7 linked regions of the Homo sapiens genome follow. The protein of the gene in region 1 purifies or fractionates together with the protein of each later gene. This does not show direct contact. Each region holds a gene or a part of one and is shown in the gene's direction. Other genes may lie near its edges.

Region 1 (3,500 bases):
TTAGGTTGTCTCAGAAGATAGCCTCTTGTAGGTCTCTGTCTCCGGGAGCCGTCTTTCTTTATGTAACATTACTTGACATGGCATTTATTTATTCTTTGTGAAACTTCTAAGAGTAATTTGGGAAAGTTAGTATTGACCTTTGTTTTGTTACAAGATATAGTGCGTGCATGAGTATGCGTGTATTTTTTCATTTTTAAACTCAGTTTGCTACACAAGTCATCTGTCACTTCTAGTTACAATAGGCGTTTTACTTGGTTTTCGTATTCCTGTTCGGGAATGTTAAAGATTCCAAAAATACTTAGTTTAAAAACAAGCCCAGTAGTTTCTCTGAGAGTGTATTTACTTTTTAAGAAGCTGCCAAATGGTTCGCAATTCTGACTCCTTGGAGAGTAGAGGTAAGAAGCCCTTTCCTCACACTGTTCTGTTACAACCACTTGATTCTAACCATTTCCCCCATTACTTGAAAAAGGTTTTAGAATCCTTTCTCATTAATTAGTTCAGAATTAAGAATAAATTTGCTGTGTTGAGACTGTAATTGTTTTAGCTGGCATGAGTGATCGTGCACAGTGAAAAAATCATGATAATAAAACTTAGATGAATAAAATTTATTTGTTCAAATCTTAAAGCCTTTGAGGTTTAAAAAGTATAATCATTGTGTTCTAATAATTAGACATTAATAATAAGTAGTAATTAAAAATACTTGGTTTAGCTATGTAAAACATAAAAGCTAACAGGCTTGGGGGAAAGACTGATTAAAGTAAGAAACTATTTTGAGGCATCTTTTTAAGGACTAAAAGTATTCCACTAGCCTGCCATTCTCTTTTTTGACGGATAATTACCTGATTCAATTAAAATGAACAGGTACAAAACTTCCATATACATACAGTACCAGGGATGATGCACTAAACAGGACTGAAGACACCCTGTCCTATAGAAGTGCAGAGTAGTGGTTGGCCATCCACAGCAAGGTGATGAGAGCTGAGACAGACCAGAGAGTAGGATCTCTGCTGTTACTTAGTTCCGAAGGAGCAGGCCCTCCTTCCTTTTCAGTGGCAGTTGAGGTTGCTCTTTTTATGTGGGAGAGTGAAATTAGCCAAGATTAGATCCCATAAGGAGAAGGAGGGGCTCTTATAACCAAGACCATTGTCTTTCTCTAGAAGAGGATGGTTAGGGACCTGAAAAGAAATGAGATTTTGTGTTTCCTTAGGTAAGATAGGATTCTTTCTCCTCAGAGGTGATTTTAGGGAAGTAATTGAAGATATTTTAAAGGAAAGCTCCATATCTCCAAAATATTATTTAGTAGCTGAAGTTCTACCAGGTAGTTTCAGTTAGCTTTCAGATATGGGATGCTTTGGGTTGGGTGTGGGGGTGAGAGTTGCAGGGGCAAGTTGCAGGGGCAAGATGCTGGGCAAATTGCAGGGGTGAGAGTTGCAGGCCTTAAGTACTCTATTAGGGGAATAGAGTACCTAAAGAATTGTGTATTTTAAGTTAAAAGTTATACAGGTATATGGTAAAAAAAAAAAAAATTTAATGATAGAGTAAAAAATGTTACTTTTTTCCTCCCCCCACAGGTAATCCACTGTTAACAGTTTCTTAAAAGTTTACTTTAAAAAAAATTGTACAAAGAGTATTGTTATACTGTTGTACTGTAATTTACTATTTTATTTATTTATTTTATTATTATTATTATTTTTTGAGATGGAGTCTCGCTCCGTTGCCCAGACTGGAGTGCAGTGGGGCAATCTTGGCTCACCACAACCTCCACCTCCTGGGTTCAAGTGATTCTCCTTCCTCAGCCTCCTGAGTAACTGGGACTACAGGCGTGTGCCACCATGCCCAGATAATTTTTGTATTTTTAGTAGAGACTGTGTTGGCCAGGCTGGTCTCAAACTCCTGACCTCGTGATCCGCCCGCCTCGGCCTCCCAAAGTGCTGAGATTACAGGCATGAGCCACCACGTCCGGCCTACTGTTTTATTTTTTAACTGTGATTTACTTTTTTCCTTAGTTAAGTCACAAGCTCTTTTCATACTGGCACATACAGATCAACATAATTAAGAAATAATAAGAATATTTTATTATAACATAATTTATTTTTTCTGACTCCTGTTGAGTAGTACTACGTTGTAATAGTTTACATTGACCAGCAGCGTATGAGAATGCCTGTGACATGTATTTACCAACATTGGACTTTAAAAAACTATATTGCCAATTTGATATATGAAATTTGTCTTGTTTTGGGTTTGTATTTCTTTGTGAGTGAAGGTAAACATTTGTTTATATGCTTATTAGGGGGAGGCCATTTGCAACATATTCTTTAATCAAGTGGTTTAATGCTAGTTTAATTTACTTGCTGCCCCCACCACCTACCTTCACCCTTACCTAAGAGCTAAGATGGTCTGAGAGAAGTGGGACTTTAAGAAGAGGAAAAATATTTTGGGGCTCATGGCACCTTGACGGGGAGCAATGCTCTGAATGGAGAGGCTACAGCACCTGGCTTTGAACAACTCTGGGTCAGTATGAGAGTATTGAAAGCCCTTGACTTGGTGTAAACATAAGGTAGAAGAGAAGCTGAAGCGACACACAGGAAGGGAGATTTGAGAGTCAGGGCAAATAAATTTTGTATAGAGTCAACCCCACCTTGTACCATCTGCTTATCCTGTCTCATCACTTCTCCCTCCCACCTTCAACTATCATTTCATTTTTATTCATACTGTCATTTGGTTTTCTCCTCTTTTCCTGTCAGGCATGGCAGCCTGGACCTGGGTATTTCAAATGCCCCAGAGATGAGGTGTGCTTAGTTTTTGGTTTTCTTTTTTTTTGAGACGGAGTTTCGCACTTGTTGCACAGGCTGGAATGCAGTGGTGTGATCTCGGCTCACTGCAGCCTCGGCCTTGGCAGGTTCAGGCGATTCTCCTGCCTCAGCCTTCTGAGTAGCTGGGACTACAGGTGCACGCCACCACGTCTGGCTAATTTTTTGCATTTTTAGTAGAGACAGGGTTTCACCATGCTGGCCAGGCTGGTCTCGAACTCCTGGCCTCAGGTGATCTGCCCGCCTTGGCCTCTCAAAGTGCTGGAATTACAGGCGTGAGCCACTGCGCCCTGGCCTAAGTAGAAGCTCTTGAGCACTTTTTCCCCCTCTGTCTCTTTGGTACTATTCCTTTCAGCTTTCGACTCTCCTAGCCTTCTGGGGTAACATAAATAGGTCAAGTCTTTATAGCTGTAGTTGGAATTCGGAAGGTCACTGGCATTTAAGACTTGAACATAGGAGCATATATCACAATATATGCTCCTATGATATATCAGGATGTGATGCTTGATAAGTGGGGTCCCTTTCTAAGGAATGCAGAAGAGCATGGTGGTTAATTTAAGCATATAGACTTAAGAGTCAAGACAGCTTGGGTTTTTATCTCCTCTAGCTAAACAAGCAATTACCTAATCTTACTAAATCTCAACTTCTTAATCTGAACAGTGGGACTAACAGCAGAAACCTCATTTTTAA
Region 2 (4,136 bases), on another chromosome or scaffold:
AAGAGAAAGGAAAGAAAGAGAGGAAAGAAGGAAAGAAAGAAGAAAGAAATGAAAAAAGGAAAGAAAGAAAAAGAAAAAGAAAGAAAGAAAAGAAAAAAGAAAGAAAGAGGGAGGGAGGGGTGGAGGGAGGGAGGGGTGGAGGGAGGGAGGAAGGAAGGGCTCATATATTTGTCCTCCAAAATAAAGCTTCCAAGGAGGTGCCAGCATTCCAAAAGCAACATCAGATCATAGAAGACAGAGCCTCTCCTATCTTAATAGCTTAGAAGACAGCACGAGAGATTCACATTAAACCCAAGGAAGAACTTCCTGCTGCCAGGGCTGTCCTGGATTGGAATGGGTAAGTGAGACAAGCCCTGTAATATCACCCTCCTTTCTCAGGATCAGATGAGGTATTGACCTGCTTTTAAAACCCAGGAACTGAATGAGGGTGATGGGGAGGCCACAGTGGGAAGTCCCAGCTTAGTCAGGAATTAGCTGCGTGTCCTTGGGCCAGTCCCCTCTCATCTCTATCTCACAGTTTCCTCGTCTTTCAAATGAGAAGGCTGAGAGAATGTACTTCGATGGAGTTTCTGTTTAGGATGTCCCTTAGGATGCCAAGTCTCAGCTCCCTCTCTTCTACCAAATGCAGGAGGCAACATCAGAGATACGAAATCTAAGGTGGGGGTCCCTGGATGAGATGACATTTTTTTGCTCAGGATCCCTTAGGGCCAGAGAAGAGGTTCCAGTGGCCACACATCTGCTGTGACCAGCAAACTTAGCCAAGCCAAAAGCCATGCTCCCCCACCCTCAACAGCCAAGCCAGCCCCAGGAAGAGGGCAGTTCTATCAGAAGCCACTGGTGATCTCACCAAAGGCGGGGTGGTCTTTCTCCCATCCACAGGACCCAAGAGGAGAGGCCAGGGCTGGCCTCACTCATTATGCCAGCCTGGGCCAGCCTTCTTTGGCTGCAAGCTCTGGCCTAACCCTAATGCCTTCTCCCTTCCTAGGCATCCAGAACTCTGCAAACCCCCACTCCTTTGCTATTCAAAGCTGACCTCTACCCGCTGCCTAGACATCGCTGGGGCTTCAACATCTTTGAGAGCCAGGATAGCAAGCATCTGCCTCAACAACCTTCACCCTGTGTACAGATGAAAAAACTGAAGCCCAGAGAGACAAGACTTGCCCAAGATCACAGCCCAAGTCACCGATACAGGCAAGACTGGATCTGAGTCCCCCACATGCAGGATGTGCCGCCACCCTATCTTCAGCTATTGTGACAGCATCCCTTGCACTGAGTCCTCGGGCCCTCAGGGGGTGGGGCCAAGATGAAGCAGGCACGGTGTCACTCCACACCCCCTCTCTTTCCTCTCCTGACTAAGTTTCTCTGGCTTCCCTGAGGCTGCAGGTGTTAATCTGGGGGGCCCTGGGCCCTGAGCCGGCAGCAGAAATATGAGGACCCAGAGCCTTCTCCTCCTGGGGGCCCTCCTGGCTGTGGGGAGTCAGCTGCCTGCTGTCTTTGGCAGGAAGAAGGGAGGTGAGTGCGGGAAATCCCTCTGCTGGGGGGACCAGATTGTCTCTACTTCTCTAGGGAGAGTAAGGGTTTGGGGGAAGGCAGGTAATGCCCTGTGGGGTGTGTGTGCGCGTGTGTGTGTGCGTGCGTGCGTGTGTGTATGTGTGGATGCCTGATTCTTAGTGCTTTCAGAAGCCTGTGTTTTTATGTGTGTACATTTGTGCCTGTCCACCTGCCTGTGTTGGTATCTGTAAGTGTCTTTTCTGCCAGTTTCTCGGTGCTTGTCTGTGCCTGTCTATATGTCAGGGGGTGGCAGGGCGGGGAATGCATGTGCCTGTGTCTGTGTAGACATGTGTCTTTGCGTCTGCTTGTCTGTGCAAAGCTCTGTCTGCACACGTACACTTAGGAATGGCTGCACGCATGTGTCTGAGCTTGGTGCCTGTCCATGTGTGTCTCTGTGCCTTCAGGTGTGGGGAGGGACCCTGTCTGTGCCTGCTGGGCTGTGGTGTGACTGGGTCAGTGGGTCCACCACCCCATCTGTGGAAGGGACTTGGGAATTGAGGAGAGGGTGTGGCTTCTGGGATCTGGGCTTTGTGGGGAGGAAGCTCTGTCTCTAACTCTCATCGCCCCCAACCTCCTGTCCCCATTCCCACCCCTGACAAGGCTGGGGCTGGCCTGCTGACAGGTGAGGGAGGGCTGCTGAGTGGCTAGACAGGTGACTCCTGATCTGGGTGAGGCCTCCACCTGCGTCCTTTTCTGGGGCTGGAACACTCCAACCTACATTCACCTGTGCAACCCTTGCCCTGCCTTAAAGAAAGGGGACAGTAATGGGGACAGGCTGAGGAAGGAAGTACACTGGTGAGCTCCAAGGCTGGACCCTGTGTTGGCTGTGATTCATGCACCATCATCACGTAACTCCTCGACAAGGTGCTGTGAGGACAGGACTATTTTCATCCCCATTTTGCAGATGAGGAAAATTGAGGCATAGCGGGGAACCACTTAACAAGGTCAAAGACTGACTCTGAGTTAGTGCCAAATGTGGCATTTGAATGCAAGTATTTGAAATCAGAAAGATTCACCTTACCAACTATTACAGCAAAAACCCAGGACTGTACAGGACAATGCACCCCCAACATAGGAAGGAGCTGAGAGACCAGAGAATGACTTAGACAAGGCCAGATTAGCAAGTGCATGAGTGCAAGTATTTGAAATCAGAAAGATTCACTTTACCAACTATTACAGCAAAAACCCAGGACTGTACAGGACAATGCACCCCCAACATAGGAAGGAGCTGAGAGAACAAAGAATGACTTAGACAAGGCCAGATTGGCAAGTGCATGAGTTTATTAGGACTTCCAGGCAGGACACTCCTGGAAGGCAACAGGACAGGTCTGGAGACTTACTCCTTGTAAAATGGGGTCCCATGCCTCTCTCTCAGGAGTAAATGGTGTCTCGAGGAATAAGGGCCTGGCACACAGTAAGCACAGCATAAGTGGGTGATTTGGGGGAGTCATTGTGTTCCCAGGGAGCACACCCCAATATTCAGCCCAGCTGCTCAGAGGCAAAGAGCTGGCACAGCAGAAACCGAGCCTGCGCAGGGCCACTCTGCATGGGCAGGTGTGACAAGCTTGTCTCTCCCCCAGTTCACCACACCTTGTCCCCCACTGGTTTCTCTCCTGTAAGACATTGCCGAGCTGTTGGTAGAATTTCAGACAATGGAGGAAGGTGACGAAGCCAAGGGAAGGGAAGTCTCAGTTTGTTGCCTGTGGAAGCCCAGCCGCCTCTGTTTATAAGAGCTCCCCATTCTGCCCCCTTCTCACTCAAACGTCTGGGTGTCTCTGATACAAAGAGCCTGGCATAGTCCCTGATAAACAGCAAGTGCCTAATTAAATGCTGTCAGTGGTTATGTGGTATTGGGAAGATATATGTGTCTGTGTAGCTCTGTGCATATGATTCTGTATATATGACTGTGTATGCTTATGTATGTCTCTCTGTTCACATACATATGCTATATATTTATATATTTATATACATAACTGTGTGTGTCTGAGTGTCTATCTGTGTGTATGTATCTATGTGGGTAGGCATGTGTAAATGACAGTGATTATGTTCCAGCTCATATGTACATACATGACTGCCTGTTTATATATGTTTATAAATATATTGCATATATATAACTCTCTGATATATGTCCATATGTATATATGTGTGTATTAAGTTGAACCATGTAAAATTGCTACTTTTGTAGATAAAACAGTTGACTATCTGCAGTTTCCTACTGTTAAGCCTGTAGCTAATTGTGTGTCTAGATCTAAATGTGCTTGTGTATTTGACTATGTGTGTATCGTCTGTGTGTACAAGTGTATATATTTAACCATGTTTGGATACGATTCTTTTGCTCTCTAAGTCTACACACCCATGGCGCATGCATCTGGATGACCATCTGTGTGTGTGACTGTCTCGATGTACACATCTGTGAGTGGAGAACCTGGTTTGGAGGGACTGTTAGGAAAGGCAGGCAAACAGAGTGAGTGTGACCACCCAGAGCCTCTCACGCCGGCTCTGCACACGCCAGGCTTTTATCCCCACCTCCACATTGCAGCTATCGCAGTTCTTCCACTGGAAATGCCAGCTGTCATGCCCCATCC
Region 3 (3,500 bases), on another chromosome or scaffold:
TGTCCGGCAAGCGTCGGTCAGCCGAACACTGTGTGCCTGGTGGTGTGTGTTCACATGTGTGCGTGCGTGTGCCCGGCAGAGCAGCAAACAGCTGCGCCCGAGAGCTGTGGCGCTTTCCCTCCCTACCTCCCTTCTTCCCTCCATCCGCTCTCCGACCTCCCTCCGTTCCCTGTCCCTCATCCATCCAGCTGAAGGGCTCGCTCACTCTCTTCTCCTATGCTGAAACGGTGCGTGGGGCACTGCTGCCTGGACCTCACTGTGCTCTGCTTTTTCCCGCAGCACTCCCTCAACATCCTGGGCCAGAAGGTGTCGATGCACTACAGTGACCCCAAGCCCAAGATCAATGAGGACTGGCTGTGCAATAAGGTACAGGGGCGGTGGGCAGCAGTTGTCATGGACAGAGACAGCAACAGCAGTGGCGGCGATCTCTCCCTTCCTCTCCCGCTCTTTCTCCCTCCATCTCTCCCCCTCCCCCAATCTCTCCTCTCCCTCTGTCTCTCTCTCTCTCTCTCTCTCTCTCTCTCATTCTCTATCCCTTGCTAGCTCAGCTTGAGTAGTCACCATTCCTAGCCAGCCATATACAAATGTGTAGTGAGCGTTCACTTGGTGCAGGCTCTGTCCTCCTAAAATGCAGTCTTGCCTGGAGTTCCAGTAGACTTTAAGGAAATATATACGTGGATGATGAATTAGTGACAGTGTAGACTTGAAGTGGTGGTGTGGAGAATGTGGGCTTCAGAGCCAGACTGGCTGAAATGAGACTATCCCAGATCGGCCTTGATTTTGGCCAAGGTGCTTAGCCTCTCTTTGCCTCACTTTCCCCATCTCTAAAATGTGAATATTAATGACACCTCTCCCAAAAGGTGGTTGGGAGGATTCAGCTGTGTTAATGAGAGAGTAACACTCAGAACAGTGCCTGGCCCACATTTAACACAGTCGAATTGTTAACTGTAATCATGAAAGAAAAGCACAGAGCGTTCTGAGAGCCCATAGCAGGTAGCTCAAGCCTGAAGGCCACTCTGACCAGGCCAAGTCAAACCTGAAACTGGAGGCTGTGGTTTTGTAGTCACCTCTGTCTTCCCTGAGGGGAAGCTGAGGCTCAGAGAGGTGGAACCATGGGTGAACCTTTAGCTGTGCCCTGTGCCTTGCTCCTGATCACAGGGACTTGGATGCCACAGTGGCTTCAGGTCTGCCCTGGGGCCAGCATTGTGATTCCACAGTTTGTAGAGGCCCCAACCCTCTCCCCAGGAAGTACTCTGCCTAGTCAGGGAGAGTGGTGCATCTGTTTTAAAAAAAAAAGTCCCATCAGAGGATTGGTGCTTAACATTTCTGGAGAGATAAAGACAAAGTGACAGTGGAACTCCTTCCTGTGTTTCCAGATAGCCTCAAAACCAGGGAATTCTCTTTTTTTTTTTTTTGAGACAGGATCTGGCTCTGTCGCCCAGGCTGGAGTGCAGCAATCTGGGCTCACTGCAACCTCTGTCTCCAGCGCTCAAGCCATCAGCCTCCAGAGTAGCTGGGACCACAGGCGCATGCCACCACACCCACTAATTTTTGCCTTTTTATTTTTATTTTTTTTGGTAGAGACAGGGTTTCGTCATGTTTGCCAGGCTGGTCTTGAACTCCTGAGCTCAAGCAGTCCTCACGCCTCAGCCTCCCAAAGTGCTGGGATTACAGGCGTGAGCCACCACGCCCAGCCCAAAACCAGGGAATTCTCTTGAACTCCTTCCCCTCCCCTGCATCCTGTTGGCCACCAGGTCCTGTCACTTCCATCACAGAAACGCCACCTTCCCTCCCTCGCCATTCCCGCTGCTCATGCCAATCGTCACGCTCTCACCCACTCACTGTGGAGCCCTCTCTGGTATGCTGGCCTCTTGTCCTCTTTCTCCCACGCCCTCACCTGGAACATTCCTCAAAACCACCTCTGACTACCCACGCCTCTCCTCCTCTGCTTAACCAGCCCCAGCTCAGCTTAAGCATAAGATCCTCCATTACCTAACTGGCTTCCTTCCCCGGCCTTGGCTTTTGCTTCTCCCCTTACTCTCCCACACCAGTTTCGGAAAGTCCATTGTTCCCTCCGATAACAATCCCTCCCCAGCAAGGCTTAACAAAATGAAACTTCTGGGCATCCCAGGTCAAACCTCCCTGCTTCTGTGCAGGGACTGTCCCTGCCGAGTAAATGGCACCCCACCCCCAGCCCATTTCCCTCCCCGAGCCCCTGCTGGATGGTCCATGCAGACCGACCTGCCCCTCTTCATGCTGCATCTGCCCCTGTGCTATTAGGCCATGAGGGCAGAGACCATGTTCTGGCCATGTGCAGCAGGGCCTGGCCCAGGAGTGGTGCTTAGTACCTGAGTCTGGAACAGAGATGGAGTGTGGTAGAAGCTGGGTCTCCAGATGCTGGAACATTCAAGGAAAATTTCTCAAGCGTAGCAGGATCCAACCCAGTCCTAGAGCTAAGAGGAGGGGTGCGGGTCTGGCTACTGACTTCTAGGGCTGAAACACTGAAAGGTTTCTGAATAGAGGAGCAAGTTTCAGGGAGAGGAACCTAATAAAGGGATTGAATACCTGAGGCGGGGAACAGTCCTGGGAGTTGGTGGCCTTAAGAAGGCAGAGGAAGGAGAGGAGGGAGTTGTTGTACCAAATGGGGGAGTTGTTTATTCCTGAGCTGAGTGGGTTGGCACAGAGGACAAATGAGAGTCTGGAAAGGGAAGATGCACAGTACTGAGAACAACATCAGAAGGTTCAGAAGGCACCTGCCACCATTGCCTAGGGGCTTTCCTTCCTGGGGCACTGCGGGGTCCCTGGGAGATCTCTTCATCCAAGTTTGGAGGGTGCAGTGGGAAATCCCTGCTCCCTCTGACGGCCTGGCCTGTGCCTCACAGTGTGGCGTCCAGAACTTCAAACGCCGAGAGAAGTGCTTCAAATGTGGCGTGCCCAAGTCAGGTGAGGCCCACCTACCTCTCGTGCTCTCCAGGGCGGAGCGGTTGGGGAGAAGGGAAGGGTGAGGGGTCTGTGCTCAGGGCTTGGTATAGGGAGGAGGGTGACCAGTCGTGGAGCCTTCCCCTTATCACCAGCCTGTCTCCCACTGCCCCTGACAGAGGCAGAGCAGAAGCTGCCCCTCGGCACGAGGCTGGATCAGCAGACACTGCCACTGGGTGGCCGGGAGCTGAGCCAGGGCCTGCTTCCCCTGCCGCAGCCCTACCAGGCCCAGGGAGTCCTGGCCTCCCAAGCCCTGTCACAGGGCTCGGAGCCAAGCTCAGAGAACGCCAATGACAGTGAGTCAGTTGTTCCTTCTTCCTCTGTGCCCTAGGGTGTCGGGCTGGGCTCACCAAGACCAGAGAAATGGCAGTGAGCAGGACCTCATCCTCATGGAATCTCCACTTGGTGCGGGGATAGACATTTGATGTAGGGAGAACAGGGGGAGTGGCAACATCCCACCTGACTTTGGGGGTGTGTCGGGAAGGTTCTCAGCAGACAGGCAGCCAGGCTGGCACCTGGAC
Region 4 (3,189 bases), on another chromosome or scaffold:
AGGATATTTTCTTGCCTCATCACCACGGATTCCTCAACAATGATAGACACTGTCATGGGAGATCCAGCCTTTGTTGAAGTGGCGTCAGCCATCTCAGAGCTGCCTTCCTTGAGCCAGACCCAGCCATGGCTGTGGCACTGTGTGGCATTGGTTCACCCCGCACAGCAGCCCCTGCTAACTCTTTTGTGCCTGTGATGTGGGAGAGGTGGATGGACACCCACTGGCCTGCAGAATATCTGGCCTTCAGTATACAGGGAGGACTCGGGCTGGGAACTGCTTGGTTTCCCTGAGGGTGGAGAGCCAGGGGTGAGGGTGCAGAGTGGGCCATGTCTAGTGCCCACCTGCGTGGGCTGGGTCTGGGGCTCTCGGGGCTGTGGCTGGCAGCATAGATGGCTCCCAGGGCCAGGCCAGCCCCATCCTGGGGCCTGGTTTTGCTTTGTGGTGAGGGTCTGGGTGCTCAGCTGAGCCTGAGGGCCCTGTGAGATATGGGCAGTTTGCACCATGTCCCCTTGTGCGGAAGAGAACACTGAAGCCGAGGAATTGGCCAGAGTGCGGCCAAAAGTGACCTGCCCCACCCAAGGACTTCCACAACCCACTCTGGGGACGGGGGTTCATGCCAGCTGGGGTGGGCAGGCCCGTGTTTGTCCAGGTCTGTAGGGCCCTTCCCTGTGTCACCTCTATTGTCTTCCCGGGGGGGAGTTCTCCCTGCAGGCCCCAACCCTGACCTCTCTAGCAGTGCAGACAGCAGTTGTGAAGATGAAGTACAGTGAGACAGACACAACCACTGAGTGCAGAATACCACAGGCCGGGAGGAGCCGCGCACTTTGGAATGCAGTGGAGGGCAGGCAGCGGAGGGGAGTTCTGTGCCCTGTCTTGTGTTCCCACTCCTCCCTTCTCACGGCTGTTTTTCTTTCATTACTTCAGTAATTGAGCTGAAAGCTGAGGATCGGAGCAAGTTTCTGGACGCACTTATTTCCCTCCTGTCCTAGGGTGAGTTACAGGGGTTCTGCAGGGGTGGCTGCAGCAGCCCCCTCAGAGCCCGACCCTGATGCCCTGCTCTGTCCTCCCTCAACGGAGGCTTCTACTTGGGTTTCAGACCGAAGCAGGGTTCTTGAGATTGGAGCCAACACATTTTTCCCAAGCACATCTGTCCTTAGGCTGCCAGCAGGGCCACAATGGGGCATTTTGAGGCAGCTAATTTCATTAAGCCCCTGCGATCCCTTCAGAAAGAGCTGGTATTCACCCTCTGCTGACCACACTTGGGCTGGGCATCGCGTGTGACACATGTCACACACAGACTCCCTGGTGCTGCCCTCGAAGGCCACCTGGAGCCTCCTGTCCCACAGCCTTCGTGTCAGGCGCTGGGCAAGAGCCCGCAGAGCAGCCATCCGGGCTTTTGTGTGCTTGGCTCATGAGAAAGCAAAGCTGTTGGCAGCCGCTTAGCTGGGAATTCCAAAGCGCTGGTTCTGCTGGGGCCTTCACCAGCACACAGCTGTCCTGAGGGCCCCATTGGGATTCACTGGCAGGTCACTGTCCCGGGACACCTCCCACTGCCCCATGTGCTACCTCTTTCTTAAGGGTTCCCAGGAAATAGGCCTGCCTTGTGTCTTTGTAACCATCTCTCAGCCCAGGTTCCCCACAGGGAATGCCACATCCAGCCCTGCATCTCCCAGAGCCCTAGCCTGGAGGCTGCGGCTGTGGCAGATGGGCCCTGCCAAGACTCTGTTGCAGGAGGTCCCTCAGGCCAGGCCTGGGGTCCTCCCCACTCTCCCATCCGTCCGTCCATCCATCCATCTGTCCATCCCTCCAGGGGCAAGCACCTGTTCTCCTGTTGGGGCTGGAGTGGGGGTTTCTGCTGACAACAGCATAGGGGGCCTCAGGGACCCCACAGTTCCTCTCAGGGTGGCCTGGGCTACATGGGGCCCATTTTGGGCGCGGGGCTCTGAGTCAGACCCTCGGGGTTTTTGGCAAGTTCTGTAGGGTCATCAGCAGTGACCTTGGGCCAGCCACCTAATCAGGCTTAGCCTGTTTCCTCATCCAAAAATGGGGCCCACTCTCTCCTTAGACGATGAGTGTGAGCATCACAGGACTGCATAGGGTGGGGCGGAGGCAGAGGTGGGGCTCTCTGGCAGTGGAGTGGGTGCTAGAGGCAAACCCCTCCCCTGCAGCCTGCTTGGTGGTGATGTTATGCTGCTGTGTGTCCTTCCACTGAGGCAGGGGCACAGGTGGCCTGGGCTAGGAGGGCTGAGCAGCAGAGTGCCGAGGGATGGAGGGAGAGCCCCCATGGGAGGGTGCCAGGGGGCTGGCTGAGCAGCTGGGCGGGGTCCGTGAGGTAAGAAGGTGCCCGGGCCAGGGGGCAGGAGCTCTGATGTAGGACAGCTCAGCCCAGTCAAGGGGTGCTATGAGGACAGCAGGGGCCTCCGAGTCTGGGGTGGCCTCACCCCCACAAGCAGTCCTGGCTACTCAGCAGCACTACCCAGAGGGGACGCCTGGGCAGTTTCTTCAATTCGGTGGCACATCAACATCGTTTGAAACTTGTTTTTTCTTGTTTTGTTTTCTAGAATTTGATTCTTCCAGAATGACCTTCTTATTTATGTAACTGGCTTTCATTTAGATTGTAAGTTATGGACATGATTTGAGATGTAGAAGCCATTTTTTATTAAATAAAATGCTTATTTTAGGCTCCGTCCCCATTGTGGCTCTGGTCTCGAGGCCAGTGCTTGAGTGTGCTCTGAGCCTTCTGTGGGTCTTGGGCCCCAGGAGCCCTCAGTGCCTGGCAGGAAATCAGCATGGGGATTGGCCCCAAGGACAAGATCTCCTTACTCTGTCCTCCAGGCCCTCCGGGTGGCAGTGGACAGAGGTCAGGACCCCTCGGCATCCCCGCCTCCTCATAGCACCTGCACCGGCCACTGCCTGGTGGTGCCAGCCAGCACCTGGCTCTGTCCACCTACCACTTCCTCTGGTCCACCTGGCCTCAGCCACATAGCAAGTCCACCCTCTCAGCCATCCCTCCACCTGTGGGTCTCACCATCCAGCACTCTTTTCCAGGTCTTTGAAGGCAGGAGTGATTTGGGTAGGTTTTAAGTCAGTGGGGAAAAGCTCAGAAAGAGTGGCCTGGAAAAGAGCACACAGGTAGGTGGGGCTGGTCTTGGTGCAGCCCTTGGCAAAGGGCAGTGGGCACAAAAGGGT
Region 5 (3,500 bases), on another chromosome or scaffold:
GATGGGGCCACTCAGCAATTCAGTTAGGTGTCCAGAGAATAGATAAGATGAGCAGTGGACAGACACCTCCAGGGGACACCAGCTCAGTAAATTGCCTCATAACAGCAGTAAGTGCTTGTGTTGTTTGGGCTCCTACTGAGTTTAAGAAGCTTACATACAAGGCAAGTCGTGGTGGCTCACGCCTGTAATCCCAGCACTTTGGCAGGCTGAGGCGGGCAGATCACCTGAGGTCGGGAGTTTGAGACCAACCTGGCCGATATGGCGAAACCTCATCTCTACTAAAAATATAAAAATTAGCCAGGTGTGGTGGCAGGCGCCTGTAATCCCAGCTACTTGGGAGGCTGAGGCAGGAGAATTGCTTGAACCTGGGAGGTGGAAGTTGCAGTGAGCCGAGATTGCGCCACTGCACTCCAGCCTGGGCAACAGAGTGAAACTCTGTCTCCAAAAAAAAAAAAAAAAAAGAAGCTTACATACAGTTTATTTGGCCCTTACAAAAATAACTTGTATAGAAGGGCAGATGTCCATTCCTTTTTCCAAAAGGGAAAACCATTTCTCAAAGAAATGGTTCCTTCTTCCCCATGGTCCTTATGTCAGTTTCCTATTTGCTGCTGTAACAAATCACACAAATCTAATGGCTTAAAACAACACACATCGGGCCGGGCGCGGTGGCTCACGCCTGTAATCCCAGCACTTTGGGAGGCTGAGACGGGCGGATCACGAGGTCAGGAGATCGAGACCATCCTGGCTAACACGGTGAAACCCCGTCTCTACTAAAAATACAAAAATTAGCCGGGCATGGTGGCGCACGCCTGTAGTCCCAGCTACACGGGAGGCTGAGGCAGGAGAATGGCGTGAACCCGGGAGGCGGAGCTTGCAGTGAGTCGAGATCGCGCCACTGCACTCCAGCCTGGGCGACAGAGCGAAACTCCGTCTCAAAAAAAAAAAAAAAAAACAACACACATCGCTTGTGCCTGTAGTCCCAGCCACTTGGGAGGCTGAGACAGGAGGATTGTTTCAGCCCAGGAGTTCAAGGCTGCAATGAGCTATGATCACACCACTGCACTCCAGCCTGGACGACAGAACGAGACCCTCTCTAAAAACAAAACAAAACCCAAATTTATTATTTTACAGTTCTGGAGGTCAGAGGTCCAAAATGGGTCTCACTGAGCTAAAATCAAGCTGTTGGCAGGGCTGTGTTCCTTCCTGGAAGCTCTAGGGGAAAATCTATTTTCTTGACTTGCCCAGCTCCTAGAGGCTGCCTGCATTTCTTGGCTTGTGGCCTCCTTCCATCTTCAAAGCCAGCAGTGGCTAGTAGAGTCTTTCTCAGATACTGTCCTGGGTTCCGGCTCATCTGCCTCTTCCCCATTCAAGGACCCTCATGATTATATTGGGCTACTCAGTCCAGGATAATCTCTTTTTGAGTCCGCTGATGAGCAACCTTAATTTCATCTGTAACCTTCATTCCCCTTTGCCATGTAACAAAACATTCACGGGTTCCAGGGATTAGGGTGAGGGGCATCATTCTGCCAACCACACATGACCCAGCAGACAGAATTAGGATGAGACTGGAATGTAGTCCAGCAGGGCAGAGACCAAGCCTAGTCCTCTGTTCACCTCTCCATGCCAAGCATAGTTTACAGGCGCTCAGGAAATGCTTCTTGAAGAAGTGAATAGGTAGGAGTGCACGTCTCCTTGTACCAACTTGTCTGAAATGTGTGTTTGAAACTAGAGCCATAGAATGATGGCCAACGAGGTGGCTGGAGGCTCTCCTGAGAGTAGGGCTCTCAAAAAGCAGGTGTGCTTTTGTTTTTGTTTTTTGAGACAGAGTCCCTGCCCAGGCTGGAGTACCATGGCGCCATCATAGCTCACTGCAACCTCAAACTCCCAGGCTCAAGCAGTCCTCCTGCCACAGCCTCCTGAGTAGCTGGGACCACAGGTGTGCATCTCCACACCAGGCTAATTCTTAAATTTTTTGTAGAGACAGGTTTTCACTGTGTTGCCCAAGCTAGTCTCCAACTCCTGGGTGCAAGCAGTCCTCCCACCTGGGCCTCCCAAAGTTCTGGGATGACAGGTGTGCTTTTTTGCATAAAGAAAAAAGCCTTGGCTAGGCACAGTGGCTCACAGACCTGTCATTCCCAGCACTTTAGGATGCCAAAGTGGGAAGATTGCCTGAGGCTAGGTGTTCGAGACCAACCTGAGCAACATAAGGAGACTCCATCTCTAGAAAAATTTTTTAAATTAACTGGGCATGTTGGTGTGCACCTCTAGTCCCTACTAAGACTAGAGGCTAAGGCAAGAGGATCACTTGAGCCCAAGAATTTGAGGTTGCAGTAAATTCTGATTGTACTCCAATCAGATTGTACTACTGTACTCCAGCCTGGGCAACTGAGCTAGACTGTCTAAAAAAAAAAAAAAAAAAAAAAAAGAAACAAAGAAAAAAGGCAGCGTATTATGTACTCCTTTAGTCACACTCCACTCACCCCTCACAAAGTTTTTCTTTGTGTTCACTGCTATACCACTCTTAATTTGGTTTGTATCCTTCAGAGAGAGCTCTCTGTGTGTTTGCGTGTGTGTGTAGTTGCTTTTGTTTATTTGCCTAAATTTGAGCCCCCCGTTTTCTGATCTCGAGGCAGGCCTCACCCCTTCACGTAGATCACAGTTTTAACTGTCTCAAGTTTCAGCTTGAGTCACATTCCAGTCCTGGCTCCCTGAGACCGAGTGTGCTGCTTGGACTTGAGCGTGTCCCGAGTCTCCTGGTCCTCTCCGGTGGATCCCTGCTCTAAATGGCTGACCTCTTCCACTGTCTAATGGGTCTTCTGATTTCATTCTCGAAAGGGAGCCCTCATTTCAAGTCCTGGGGTACCCTGTGCGCAAACTCCATCTATCTGGAGTGGTGAGTAGATGAGAAGAGAATCCCTGAGATTCTAGGTTTCTTTGGGGTGAGTGGGCAAAGTCTGAGAGGAAGGGGCTTCAGCAGGCTGCTTGAGTGATCTGAGGGGGCGGAGGCAATTGTAGGGTGTTGTCAGCAGTGGCAGCCTTCGTGGAGGTTGGAGATGCCTGGGAAACCATAGAGGATACCTCACTGGTACACAAGTGTTCCTGGAGCCTGTGCCCGAGGGAGGCACCCTGGGAGATGGCATGAGTGAGACAGCCTTTGTCCCCCAAAATTCTGTGTCCAGGTATATAGGCTGGAGGCAGTAAATCTTTAAAAACCAGGGGCCCCCGTGGCGGTTCTTTGCGGAGCAGAGGCTCTGGACCTGTGGTTTCAGACGATCTCACGAACCCAAAGCTTGGACAGATTTCTCAGAAACCTGTGAGGCTTCGACCAAAATGTCTCTACTTTCTGTGTTGTTATGTACGTATTGAAGTTCTCTGAAGACTTTATTTAAATAAAGATCCTGCCACTTTAAAAAAAATTAGAGGTGTAAAAATCGTGGATTTAACAGTTGGAAAAGGCCACCTGTGGTCAGGTTAGCTGAGCTGATGAATGTGAATGTGAG
Region 6 (3,500 bases), on another chromosome or scaffold:
AATTCATAAAGAATTCCTATGAATCAATAAGAAAAAGGACAACACAACTTAAAAAATACTAATGGACAAAGGATCTGAATAGGAATTCATAATAAAAACCTGGATGGCTAATTAAAATATGAATATGTGCTCAACCCTACTTGAAATAAAGTAAATGCAAATTAAAACAAGATCCCAGCCATGCTGGCACATCCCTACAGTCCCAGCTACTCAGGAGGCTGAGGCAGGAGAATCCCTTGAGGCCAGGATTTCAAGGCTGCAGTGAGCTATGATCATACCACTGCACTCCAGCCCGGGTGACAGAGCAAGACCCCATCTCTTAAAAAGAAAAAAAAAGAGATCCCATTTCATATTCATCAGATTGGTAAAAATAAAAAAAAATCTGACAAAGCCAAGTCTTGATGAGATATGGAGTACCAGAAGCTAATCCCCACCGGGGTTGGTTTAAATAGGGACTAACTACTTTGGAGGACATGGAAGATACCTCAAGTTTAAATGCTTATAACCCAAGGCTCAGCAATATTCTAGTTAATACTCTAGAGGAATGCTTGCACAGTGCCCAAGAAGGTATTAAAAGAATGTTTATTCAGGTGTTATTTGTCATAGTGAAATACTGGAAGCACTGTAACTGTCCATTACAGAAGAACGGATAAAAACTATTGTGACTAATTTATATAACAGTATAGCATACGGCAGAGAAATGAGTGAACTAGAGCTACATGAATAAATCTCAAAACGAATGTTAAGACAAACAAGGCCGGTTGCGGTGGCTCACTCCTGTAATCCCAGTACTTTGGGAGGCTGAGGTGGGTGGATCACTTGAGGTCAGGAGTTTGTGACCAGCCTGGCCAATGTGGTGAAACCCTGTCTCTACTAAAAATACAAAAAATTAGCCAGGTGTGGTTCATCTCAAAAAAAAAAAAAAAGACAAATGATCTGAGACAAATATGGCAAATTATTAATCTTTTTAATGTGGGTAATGGGTCTGTATTGTATTGTCTGTTCCTTTTTTCTGTATGTTTGTAATATTTCATAATACATGTTTTAAAAACAATACAACTGTAATTTAAAAAATTATATAATATTTAAAGCACCTAGATCAGAGCCTTACACATGGAAGCCCTCAAATGTTAAGTACATTAGGAGGCTTTGATTGTACTTTCTCCTCTTATTTTGCAGTCCTGGTATGTTAGAGTAGAATACTGGAATGCAGAAAATGTTTCTCTTGGTCAGGTGCGGTGGCTCACACCTGTAATCCCAGCACTTTGGGAGGCTGAGGTGGGAGGATCACTTGAGCCAGGAGTTAAAGACCAGTCTGGGCAAGATGGCAAAACCCCATCTCTACAAAAAAATTAAAAAATTAGCCAGGTGTGGTGGCATGCACCTGTGGTCCTAGCTACTATGGTGGCTGAGGTGGGAGGATCTCTTGAGCCTAGGAGTTTGAGGTGAGCCATCATCGTGCCACTGCACTCCAGCCTGGGCCCACAAAGGGAGACCCCCATTTCTTAGAAAAAGAAAACATTCCTCCAAGAACTATATACAAAAACAATTAAGTTTGGTAAATAGGTATTTATAAATGTTTAAGTTATAGGATATAACTTTAGCTTTTGATCATATAGCTTCCCTTTATGATTGTGTCAAATCAAAGAATGTGTATCATAGAAAGAGGGATGGTTTGGAGTAAGATACTATAATTCCTATTTTTTTTTTTTTTTTTTTTTGAGACAGAGTCTCACTCTGTCGCCAGGCTGGAGTGCAGTGGCACGATCTCGGCTCACTGCAACCTCCGCCTCCCGGGTTCAAGCGATTCTCCTGCCTCAGCCTCCCGAGAAGCTAGGACTACAGGTGCACACCACCACGCCCAGCTAATTTTTGTATTTTTAGTAGAGACGGGTTTTCACCATGTTGGCCAGGATGGTCTCCATCTCTTGACCTCGTGATCCGCCCACCTCAGCCTCTCAAAGTGCTGGGATTACAGGCGTGAACCACCACTCCCGGCCAGATATTTAATTTTTAAACTGGGCTCTACCACCTAACTAGTTCTGCGGTCTCAGGCAAAGCCATTTTGAGCATCAAATTGTATCTGCAAAGTTAAGCTAATAAGGTCCTCCTTGGAAAAGTTTTGTCAGGATTAAATGGACTCATGTATATGAAGTTATATATATATATAAAACTCATGTAATATATATATTAAGTACAGAGCCTAGTACTTAATGGGTGCTCAGTAAATTGTAATACCAGTTATTATGACACAGATGCCTTCGCCCTAGTGACTCATAGTTAAGGGTCTCCTGCCTCATGAACAAAGCTTTATTGTTCATTTTGGAAAGTGCTTTGGGAAATCGAGCTTGCCATTAAGCTACTGGGCAGTCCTGCTTATTTAGCTTGGGGGTAGCTTCTGATGTTACTCATAGCCTTTGGTTTCTAGAACAGAACTCTGGGCACCTCCTGCCTGGCTGGGCCTCGCTGATGTGTGGTCCATGTTTCAGGCCTTCTCCACAGTAGGCACTCCTGACTACATTGCTCCTGAGGTGTTCATGCAGACCGGGTACAACAAGCTCTGTGATTGGTGGTCGCTTGGGGTGATCATGTATGAGATGCTCATCGGTAAGTTGCATGGTTTCAGAGGACTTTTTCTGTGCATCCATGACAGACTTTTACATTGATACCAGCCTCTGTTTCAATTGGCAGTGATCTAAGTGATTTCCCTACTTGTCTTTCAAAGTGAATTGTTTTAGACAGATGACACCTCTTTCAGTAAGATGTATCCCACTCCATTCTTGGGCTTACTGGCATCCTGCAATTGCTTTGCTGATCATTTTTTATGTTTTTCTTTCTCTTATACCTTCATCTTCTCCATCTAGAAGCTCTTTTAGTCACTAGCATTTATTAAATATCCGTTGTATGCAGAGCACTTCAACTGGGCATTGCCTCACTTTCCTAATTTGCCGCCCCCTTCCTCTGTCAAAGCCTTCAAATCATGGGACCCTCTGGCCTCTCTCCCTCTTATTGTATTGGTGTGTCTCTGTATTTATGGGACGCATCTGTGGGGGTGGTCATATGCCAGTGAGCACTAGATTAAGTATATCCTTGGTGGTTCCGGGTGAGTCTATCTGGCTGCTTTGGCTTCAGGAACATGGGAACGATGCCTGTGGAGGTGGGCGTACACCGTCTGGAGGGAAGATGGGGTGATAGGGTGTGTGCGTGTTTGTCTTCTTGCCTGTAGTTCTCAAAAAGAGGCATGGTGGTCATTTTTAAAATCTATGCTTTTTTCTTATTCAAGTTATTTGGTACTTTACCCATATAAGGGTATTTCTGGAATGATATTGTTTCATCCTTTCATTTCTTCTTTGGGCATGGTGATTCCCACACCTGCAACTCTATTTATGTCCTCCTTTCTTTTCCCAGCTCTACCTATTAGCTGACTTCCTAGTGGTACCAGAGGCATGATTTCACTTTGGGTCTGGGAGTTTGGGGGAAAATGAAAAATAGGTTTAGGT
Region 7 (3,500 bases), on another chromosome or scaffold:
GAGCCATGATTGCACCACTGGAATCCAGCCTGCCTGGGTGACAGAGAGAGACTTTGTCTCAAAAAACAAAAAACAAACAAACAAAAAGGCCAGACACGCTGGCTCACACCTGTAACCCCAGCACTTTGAGAGGCCAAGGCGGGGGGATCACCTCAGGTCAGGAGTTCAAGACCACCCTGACCAACATGGCAAAAGCCCATCTCTACTAAAAAATACAAAAATTACCTGGGCATGGTGGCCTGCACCTATAATCCCAGCTACTCAGGAGGCTGGGCCGGAGAATCTCTTGAACCCCGGAGGCAGAAGTTGCAGTGAGCCGAGATTGTGCCACTGCTCTCCAGCCTGGACACCAGAGTGAGACTCCATCTCAAAAAAAAAAAAAATTAAACTTTTAATTTTGACATAATTGTAGGTTTCCTTTAAAAAAGTTAACATGCTTGAGAGTTCCTAAAATATAATTTTGTCTTCAACCTTTCTCACCTAATATTATAAGAATTTTCTCACATATCAAAGTTTTTTCCTGTATATCATTTAACAGTTGGATAGCCTTATTACTAATCCAAAAAGTACACATTTATTATCTTCAGATGGGCAACATAAAAAAGCCTGATAATACTGGTGTTAGTGGGGACATGGAGAAAGTAGAAGTTGGTTTTTCTGTTTGTTTGTTTCATTTATTTTTTTTTTGAGACGGAGTCTCCCTGTTACCTGGGCCAGAGTGTAGTGGCGCGATCTTGGCTCACCGCAACCTCCACCTCCCGGATTCAAGCGATTCTCCTGCCTCAGCCTCCTGAGTAGCTGGGACTACAGGCGTGTGCCACCACGCCCGGCTAATTTTTTGTATTTTTAGTAGAGACGGGGTTTCACCATGTTAGCCAGGATGGTCTCGATCTCCTGACCTCTGGTGATCTGCCTGCCTCGGCCTCCCAAAGTGCTAGGATTACAGGTATGAGCCACCGCGCCCGGCCTGAGAAAATAGAAGTCTTATACAGTGCTGGTGGGAGTGCTGTTTTCACTTTTTTGTGTGTTTTAGTTTTTTTTTTTCTTTTTTCTTTAGAGATGGGGTGTCACTACATTGCTCAGGCTGGTCTTGAACTCCTGGACTCAAGTGATCCTCTTGCCTCAGCCTTCCAAAATGCTGGGATTACAGGCATGAGCCACCACTCCTGTTTCCACTTTGGAGAGCTATTGGCAATATCTATTAAAGTTGAAAATGAACATATGCTTTAGTTACATAAACTAAAGGGGGATTTTCAGAGATGTATGCCAAGGGACATGTATGGGGATAATTGAATATTATTTATAATAGTATAAAATGGAAACAATGTCCATACATAGAGTACTTAAATAAAATTCAGTGTATACATATAATGGAATATTATTCAAAGGTAAAGTAAAAATAAATGTCCGTCAACATGCCTCATTTTCAAAAATGCATTGAGTAAAAAAATGCAAGTTGCCAAAAGAAGTCTACGATATTTTATATTTTCTTTTATTTTTCATGAGCTATTTCAGGAACAGCAAAAAGAAGCCTACAATATACCTTTTATGTTTTAAAACAATACTATATATGTATATGCATACATCTATGCACGTGTGTTTGTTATGTATGTGTGCATACATATGTTCTATATATAATATTTAATATGAACACATTAACAGGAAGGAAACCAACAAATGCATGTGCTTGCCTCAGGGATAAGGGGAAGGTAGGAAGAAGGATGCACTACAGAGAAGTATAAAGAGGGCTTCTTTATCACTAACAGTTTACTCCCTTTATTAAAAATATAATACAGGCCAGGCGCAGTGGCTCACACCTGTAATCCCAGCACTTTGGGAGGCCGAGGCAGGTGGATCACCTGAGGTCTGGAGTTTGAGAGCAGCCTGACCAACATGGAGAAACCCTGTTTCTACTAAAAATACAAAATTAGCCGGGTGTGGTGGCACATGCCTGCAATCCCAGCTACTTGGGAGGCTGAGGCAGGAGAATCGCTTGAACTCGGGAGGCAGAGGTTACGGTGAGCCAAGATTGCGCCATTGCACTCCAGCCTGGGCAGCAAAAGAAAAACTCCATCTCAAAAAATAATAATAATAATAAATAAATATATATACACACACACATATATACATAATACAAGAAGATCTGAAATAAGTACACAAGATATTAACATTAATTCTGGGGAGTGAATGGGTCCATGGGTTTTGCTGTATTATTTTCCTTTTTTCAAAATTAAAATGAATTTTTAAAAAATACTAAGTCTAGTGATCCTTTGGGCAAGTTACTGAGGTGACTTTGAGAATCAGGCCTTCTAATCTGAAGTGTTTTTATTTCACAGGCTGAAGTTTCTCTTTGGCTCATCAGCCACCCAGGCCTTGGACCTAGTTGATCGACAGTCCATCACCTTAATCTCATCACCCAGTGGAAGGCGTGTTTACCAGGTAGAAGTCTAGAGATGGGGGTGATCCCTACAGAAACCCCTTAGGACAAAATGTTCTTCATCTCTGTAGAAGCTGTTGACTAGCTTTAAATATTTCCTGGACTGTTAAAAGGCTTTTGCCCCAACTTGGTAAAATTAACGAATTGATAATTTTTTAAAATTTTTATTTACTTTTAACTGACAGAAACTGTCTATATTCATGGTATATAACATGATGTTTTGATATATGGATACCTTGTAGAATAACTAAATCAAGCTAATTAACATATCTAATACCTTATATACTTCTTTTTTTGTGGTGAGATCACTTAAAATCCATTATCTTAGCAATCTTCAAATATACAGTACTTCAGTCTTTTTCTTGGTTTTTATAGAGACAGGGTCTCACTATGTTGCCCAGGCTGGTCTCAAACTCCTAGGTTCAAGCGATCCTCCCACCTTGGCCTCTCACAATATTGGGATTACAGGTATGAGCACCATCCCCGCCAATACTTTGTTATTAAATATATTCACCATGTTGTACCATAGATACCCTGAACTTATTTCTCCTAACTGAAATTTTGTACCCTTTGACCAATATCTCCTTATCTTCCTCTTCCTCCCCCACCCCAAGGCCCCTGGTAACCACTATTTCTTTTTCTATGAGTTCAACTTTTTTTTTTGTTTTAAATAAAGACAGGGTCTTGCTATGTTGCCCAAGCTGGTCTTGAACTCCTGGCCTCAAGCAGTCCTCCCCCTTCAGCCTCCCAAAGTGCTAGGATTACAGGCATGAGCCATTGCACCCAGCCTATGAGTTCAACTTTTTTTAGATTCCACATATAAGTGAGATCATGTGGTATTTGTCATTCTGTACCTGGCTTATTTCACTTAGCATAGTTTCACTTAACAAAATCCTCCAGAAATTTTTGTAACTAAAATAAGATGGCCAGGCGTGGTGGCTCACGCCTGTAATCCCAGCACTTTGGGAGGCCGAGGCAGGTGGATCACCTGAGGTCAGGAGTTCAAGACCAGCCTGGCCAACGTGGTGAAACCCCGTGTCTACTAAAAATACAAAAATTAGCT

What was found.
Region 2: the proteins of PDS5B (region 1) and WFDC5 purify together in Homo sapiens (affinity purification with western blotting; one study listed by BioGRID). This does not show direct contact.
Region 3: the proteins of PDS5B (region 1) and RBM10 purify together in Homo sapiens (affinity purification with mass spectrometry, with the first as the bait; one large-scale study listed by BioGRID). This does not show direct contact.
Region 4: the proteins of PDS5B (region 1) and CDC45 purify together in Homo sapiens (affinity purification with western blotting; one study listed by BioGRID and IntAct). This does not show direct contact.
Region 5: the proteins of PDS5B (region 1) and SPINDOC purify together in Homo sapiens (affinity purification with mass spectrometry, with the first as the bait; one large-scale study listed by BioGRID). This does not show direct contact.
Region 6: the proteins of PDS5B (region 1) and STK38 purify together in Homo sapiens (affinity purification with mass spectrometry, with the first as the bait; one large-scale study listed by BioGRID). This does not show direct contact.
Region 7: the proteins of PDS5B (region 1) and ZSWIM7 purify together in Homo sapiens (co-immunoprecipitation; one large-scale study listed by IntAct). This does not show direct contact.

The regions. Positions count from the first base shown.
Region 1 is NC_000013.11:32,589,452-32,592,951, forward strand, and holds part of PDS5B (sister chromatid cohesion protein PDS5 homolog B), read left to right. Parts: intron 1-3,500. UniProt on the Homo sapiens protein: Regulator of sister chromatid cohesion in mitosis which may stabilize cohesin complex association with chromatin. May couple sister chromatid cohesion during mitosis to DNA replication.
Region 2 is NC_000020.11:45,112,375-45,116,510, reverse strand, and holds the start of WFDC5 (WAP four-disulfide core domain protein 5 precursor), read left to right. Parts: upstream 1-1,336; 5' UTR 1,337-1,427; coding exon 1,428-1,512; intron 1,513-3,985; exon of another isoform or gene 3,986-4,136.
Region 3 is NC_000023.11:47,176,221-47,179,720, forward strand, and holds part of RBM10 (RNA-binding protein 10), read left to right. Parts: intron 1-279; coding exon 280-366; intron 367-2,882; coding exon 2,883-2,943; intron 2,944-3,098; coding exon 3,099-3,275; intron 3,276-3,325; exon of another isoform or gene 3,326-3,500. UniProt on the Homo sapiens protein: Binds to ssRNA containing the consensus sequence 5'-AGGUAA-3'. May be involved in post-transcriptional processing, most probably in mRNA splicing. Binds to RNA homopolymers, with a preference for poly(G) and poly(U) and little for poly(A).
Region 4 is NC_000022.11:19,517,920-19,521,108, forward strand, and holds the end of CDC45 (cell division control protein 45 homolog), read left to right. Parts: intron 1-924; coding exon 925-989; 3' UTR 990-990; intron 991-2,561; 3' UTR 2,562-2,689; downstream 2,690-3,189. UniProt on the Homo sapiens protein: Required for initiation of chromosomal DNA replication. Core component of CDC45-MCM-GINS (CMG) helicase, the molecular machine that unwinds template DNA during replication, and around which the replisome is built.
Region 5 is NC_000011.10:63,819,956-63,823,455, forward strand, and holds part of SPINDOC (spindlin interactor and repressor of chromatin-binding protein), read left to right. Parts: intron 1-2,675; exon of another isoform or gene 2,676-2,835; coding exon of another isoform or gene 2,836-2,893; intron 2,894-3,179; coding exon of another isoform or gene 3,180-3,201; exon of another isoform or gene 3,202-3,500. UniProt on the Homo sapiens protein: Chromatin protein that stabilizes SPIN1 and enhances its association with histone H3 trimethylated at both 'Lys-4' and 'Lys-9' (H3K4me3K9me3).
Region 6 is NC_000006.12:36,498,980-36,502,479, reverse strand, and holds part of STK38 (serine/threonine-protein kinase 38), read left to right. Parts: intron 1-2,489; coding exon 2,490-2,607; intron 2,608-3,500. UniProt on the Homo sapiens protein: Serine/threonine-protein kinase that acts as a negative regulator of MAP3K1/2 signaling. Converts MAP3K2 from its phosphorylated form to its non-phosphorylated form and inhibits autophosphorylation of MAP3K2.
Region 7 is NC_000017.11:15,986,205-15,989,704, reverse strand, and holds part of ZSWIM7 (zinc finger SWIM domain-containing protein 7), read left to right. Parts: intron 1-2,336; coding exon 2,337-2,439; intron 2,440-3,500. UniProt on the Homo sapiens protein: Involved in early stages of the homologous recombination repair (HRR) pathway of double-stranded DNA breaks arising during DNA replication or induced by DNA-damaging agents. Required for meiotic progression, hence for fertility.